2 separate regions of the Homo sapiens genome follow, and region 2 is linked to region 1. The links come from fine-mapping of genetic effects on gene expression. A gene starts in region 1. The other region holds a variant in brackets. All regions are shown on one strand. Distances are from middle to middle.

Region 1 (3,019 bases):
TCGGCCTCCTGAGTAGGTGGGATTACAGGCACATGCCTGGCTAATTTTTGTATTTTTAGTAGAGACGGGGTTTTACCATGTTGGCCAGGCTGGTCTCGAACTCCTGACCTCAGGTGATCCACCTGCCTCAGCCTCCCAGTGCTGGGATTACAGGCGTGAGCCACCTACCTGGCCTCACTTTCAACTCTCAAAATAATAGGTACATTTTCTTTTAGGAGTGACTAAGGTAAAAGTGACAATGGTTTCTCATTCAGACTCCATTCCTGACAGCCTCACTCAGTGCTCCATGAGGGAGGGAGCTGATGTACAAGGGAACAGACAGACTCTCCAGGAAGCAAGAGCTCCAAAAACAGGGAGCAAAGCCTGTGCAGGGCCCCTTCCTTCTTCTGCAGCCAAGAGAAGAAAGCCCCTAGGCCCCAAATAGTGATATTGGTACCAATCTACAAATAAGCAAGTTGAATAAAATACAGTCCAGAAATAGACCCACATATATGTGGGAATTTATATATATAATAAAGGTGGCATTTCAAATCAGAGAGGAGGCCCTTCAATGAAATCTGTCTGGACCATTGGGAAATAAGTCAATTTAGATCCATTTAGATTCTTACCTCAATTTAGTCATTAATTCCAAATTGTAATTTAGACTTGCCCTGGGCCTTTTAAACTGTAACTTTATATCCTTTTAGAGTCTATTTCTATTTGCTGTCTAGTTTTTTTTTTTTCAGGATATGGATTGGGAATCATGGCCTGAAGGCCAGGCCCTGCCTGCTCAGTCCCAGATATCATTTGTATGTGACGAGCCCTGCAGAGGTCCTCACCAGCTGGGAGTCACTGGCTGGTCAGATTCACGTTGGCAGCACCTGACAGGATGTGGCTACAAATGACCAGAGCGGGTTCTGTCGTCAAACTTGGGACCCGTACTTTGGAGCATAACGGGGAAGAAAGTGCTTAAAGGATTGCTCATTGCAGGATCTCAAGTTTCCCAGCAGGAACTCGCCATGCGGGGTCATGGGGGCGCAGGGACGGAGGGAAGGGCCTTACCGTCTGTCGGCCGTAGGGCCAGGGGTAGGAGTTCTCCTTCTGGGCCATCCTTAGAGAGAAAGGGGGAGGAGAGCTGGGCGGAGAAGGGAAACAGCCGTGAGAAGCAGAGAAAAAGAGAGAGAGAGGGAGGGGTTGGACCGATCGAGCCGGAAGCGCTAGCCCGAGCTGGTAAAAGGGAGCAGGTCAGCACACTAGCCCCAATCTGGGCGCTGGTCTCACCGCCCCCGCCCTGCTATCGTCCCTACCTCCTTCCAGCCCTGCGGCGTGCGCGCAGGCCAGCCCAACGGACCCTCTGATCTACCTGATCATCTGCCCACTCCCGGCGCAAGGCCTGCGACAGGAGGCCAGCTCACCTGGGGTCCAAGGCACTGCTACTCTCCCGGCCGCCCGCAAACAACTGAATCTGCCACGCCGCGCCCTGGCCAAGGACTTTTCAAATCTCCCGCCCCGGCCCCATTGGGCAAGCTCGTCGCCCATGCCTAGTTCCCATTGGCTCGATGTCCTGTGACGTAAGTCATGGGAACCCAATGGAAGAGGCGGAATGAGAAGGGCTCACGCTTGGCTTCCAGTTTAGGAAAGTTTCCCCAAATTCCCCCAGTGAATTATCTTGCTTTTTCTTTTCTTTTTTTTTTTCCTTTTTTGAGACAGGTCTCTCTCTGTCGCTCAGGCTGGAGTATAATGGTGCTATCTGGGCTTGCTGCAACCTCTGCCTCCCGGGTTCAAGCGATTCTCGTGCCTCAGCCACCCGAGTAGCTGGGATTACAAGCGCCCGCCACCACGCCTGGCTAATTTTTGTATTTTTATTAGAGACGGGTTTTCGCTGTGTTGGCCAATCTGGTCTCGAACTCCTGTCCTCAGGTGATCCACCCGCCTCGGCTTCCCAAAATGCTGGGATTACAGGCGTGAGCCACCGTGCCCGGCCTTCTTCTTTTTATAAAAAAAATTAAATCTTTAATGTAACTGGAGTTTATCCTTATGCATGTATGAGCTGGGGTCTAACTTCTCTGCCCGATGGAGCGCCAGTTATGTCAACACCATTTGTTAAACAAACTGCCCCAACAGAATTTAAATGCTGCCCTTGATATATAATGTTAGCATATTTACTTGTGTCTATTTCTAGACTTTGTATTCCGTTGTTTGCTCATTTGCCTGTGTGTTTATTCTTGTGTCATTACTATGTCGTTCTTAAAAGTTCTGACATTCCTGGGAGGAGTTTTTCCACCAATAGACCTTTCGTTGCAAGATCTCTGTTAGCTGCCGTGTTGTTTGGGCCCACTTTCATTTTTCCTCCTTCCTGCCACACTTCCTTCTTTTCTGCTCTTCCTAACCCTCAGATTTCATTACTGGGTTAAATAAATACATTTTTGGGCCTTCTATGAAATAACCAGTGGATATTTATTAAGTATGTACTGTCCAGCACTCTTCTCCTTTCTTCTAACACTCTATTTTTCCTTTAGGGGACCACCTGTCTCTCCAGTCTATGCAGTCGGTTTCTGTAGTAGTTTCTGTTGCTGACAACCCCAAATCCCTAGGTTGATGAAGACCTATTTAAATCTCACTTTTTTTTTTTTTTTTGAGATGAAGATTCGCTGTGTTGCCCAGGCTGGAGTGCAATGGCACAATCTCAGCTCACCACAACCTCCTCCTCCAGGGTGCAACTGATTCTCCTGTCTCAGCCTCCCGAGTACCTAGGATTATAGGTGCATGTGACCACGCCCGGCTAATTTTTGTATTTTTAGTAGAGACGGGGTTTCATCACATTGCTCAGGCTGGCCTCAGGTGATCCGCCCGCCTTGGTCTCCCAAAGTGCTTGGATTACAGGCGTGAGCCACTGCGCCCAGCTTTATTCCCACTTCTGAAAGCACTTAGAGTTTTGAGGATTTGAGAAGGAAACTGACTTCATTGCAGGTCCAGAAATGAGCCCCAATTAACTTATACTAATCAATACCTTTTATTCCAGATTATGGTTATTGGATCA
Region 2 (2,500 bases), 26 kb after region 1:
TGAAGGTAAGAGAAGCTGCAGAGGTCTCTTTTTGTTATCAGCCCTGATCTCACATACCTGCAGACACACTCCAGGTCGCATCACCCGCCTAAGGCCACGGAACTGCTGGTAGGCAAGGCAGAGCCCCAGCTGCCCATCCAGCTCATAGAGGCCAGCGGGCTCATTCAACACGCCAGTGACTGCTCCCTGCAAACAGGCCGAGGTCCAGTTGACCACTATTTTCTTCCTCTTTGAAAACCCACATTTCTGGCCCCTCAAGCTCTAGGATCTCTCCCTGTGCTCACCGAATAGGATAGGAGTCTAGAATACCGGACAAGACTTTCTGGATCCTTCTTGTCCTCCGAGTTGCTGGGCATGGGGAGTGGCTTGGGGTCAGCCTCTAAGAGGGGTCCTTCCAGCTCCAGTTCCAGCTCCTGCACACATTCTGGTTTCAGCAGCAACAGACGGGAGGACTGACTGGTCATCCAAACATGCTGGCGCTGACCACGGATCTTGGACACTCGCAGTTCTGTCAGCACATAGGCTGTACCAGGCCGAAGGGCTCTGTGCCACACCAGCTGGGCAGGGACCTGGCTTGTGCAGAGACAGGCAATGTGACACAAGAGACCCCAACACTGCCACTCTGCCAGAGTCCTTTTCCCTCACGATTTGAACTCAGAGACCTGCCCTCTGTGAGTCTCAACTCACCTCTCCATCTTCCCTATGTCTGCCAACTAAATCTTAGCGTCTCTCCTCTCTCACAGGAGATGCCAAATATTTCCAAACCACTTCCCCAACATACAAACCATCCCTAAAACTTCCTTCAAAATACATAAATATTCCACTGAGAAAACTGTGCCCTATCCCGCCCCATAACACACAAACAACATTCATTCATGTAATCAAAGTGTATTGAGTATATATGTATCCAGTATTGTGACTGATGTCAAGGGAAGTATGACAAACTGTTCTTCTCTAACACAGTAAGGCCCTATTTCTACAAAATACATATATTTTTAAAATTTC[T/C]ATAAAAAGGAAAAGAAACATTATTCAGAAACTTATATGTCATAAAACAATGGTTAGAATAAAGATCAATGATTTACAATTTCTACCTTGGGTACTATGCTCAGTACCTGGGTAAAGAGATCAATCATACCCCAAACCTCAGAATCACAAAATATACCCAGTTAATAAACTTGCACATGTACCTCATGAGTCTAAAAGTTGAAATTATAAAAATAAAATTGTACCAGTTGATGCAAAAAGAGTCAACAGTAAGTACCAAGTTTTTTTTTTTTTTTTAATGCCTGTATTCAATGTCTCAATGGTGTTAAGATGAATGATTTCTTTGGTCATCTCCACAAGTGAGCGTGGCAGTTTTTTAAAAGGTCACATACAATCTAAAAGCTGTGTGCTCAAGTGAGTTGCACAGCGGGAAAGTCTACTCCCTAACTCTATGCACAAACATTTCCCGGAATCTTCTCCCAACAGCGCTATTCCAGAAAACAGCTCTCCCCAGCTGTCCTCCTTTCCTACATGGCTCCTCCTATGATGCTATCTTTCCTACTGAAAGTTCTACCACCCTCCCCCACTTCCATGGCTGAAATGACCCCAGTCCTCACCTGCACGATGATGGACACGTGGGTGACAGCTGGGTGTGATCTACCAAGAGACAGGATGAAGTAAGCTTTCTGTTTACTTTTCACCAGAGCACTCAATCGAACTAGACTCCCAGCCAGGTTTCGCTGCACACCTCTGAGCTTGTTTCTAAGAAGGAAGAAAAAGCCCTGTAATCCCAGCTACTCAGGAGGCTGAGGGAGGAGAATCACTTGAACCTGAAAGGCAGAGGTTGCAGTAAGCTGAGATCCCGCCATTGGACTCCAGCCTGGGCAGCAGGAGTGAAACTACGTCTCAAAAAAAAAAAAAAAAAAAAAAAAAAAAAAAAAAAAAGCAGCAGCAGTCATCTTTATTTCTCTTCTTTTTCCCTATAAATGCTGTCCCTTCCACAGTAAAGAATAACCTGGTAATGATACAAAATGTCCATAGCCCAAAGCAAGCTATGCTAAAAACCTTCAAAATTCTCTTTCCCTTAGGTAAGGCACAGATCCCTTGAACAACCCTTCTCTTTACCTTCTTAATATTCAAAGCCCACCATTCCCTTGATTTGGAACATTCAGTCTATATTACTATCAATGCCCTTTTCTTTCTCTCCCTCCACTGACCCAGCATCATCCTTCAGTTTTACAGCGCCCCTGCCATGCCTAGAGGGGGAAATTACCTGAGCCTGAGCAGGCAGGAAGCACTCTCTGGGTAGAGGACAGGGATAGGCGTGACGGGGCCAGGACTGATGGTCAAAGGAAACACTGGCACAGGGGCATCCCACAGCTCCAAGTGCCCTTCCCCTGAGGAATTCCACCTGGCAGGAGGGAGGTAACTCCAACGGGGGAACAGAAAAAGATGGCCCAACCAAGAAAGGTCCAGGTCTATGAGCTAAGAAAGACCAAGAGCAAGGGTTAATCAG

The links. PIP is the estimated chance that this variant, and not a neighbour inherited with it, causes the effect.
Region 2: its variant is the best candidate, but not a certain one, in a credible set for the expression of AURKB in whole blood (INTERVAL, PIP 0.83).

The regions. Positions count from the first base shown.
Region 1 is chr17:8,209,136-8,212,154 of GRCh38, forward strand. It overlaps AURKB (aurora kinase B), which reads right to left and starts at 1,440. Exons shown (of 9, transcript NM_004217.4): 1 at 1,395-1,440; 2 at 1,042-1,114. The coding sequence starts at 1,089. RefSeq lists enhancers at 672-1,331, 893-942.
Region 2 is chr17:8,235,774-8,238,273 of GRCh38, forward strand. It overlaps CTC1 (CST telomere replication complex component 1), which reads right to left. Exons shown (of 23, transcript NM_025099.6): 4 at 2,258-2,469; 5 at 1,602-1,746; 6 at 285-569; 7 at 58-186. Among named protein-coding and RNA genes, the nearest start is that of TRI-AAT4-1, 10 kb to the left of the region's middle. The variant T/C (reference allele first, on the strand shown) is at 1,006.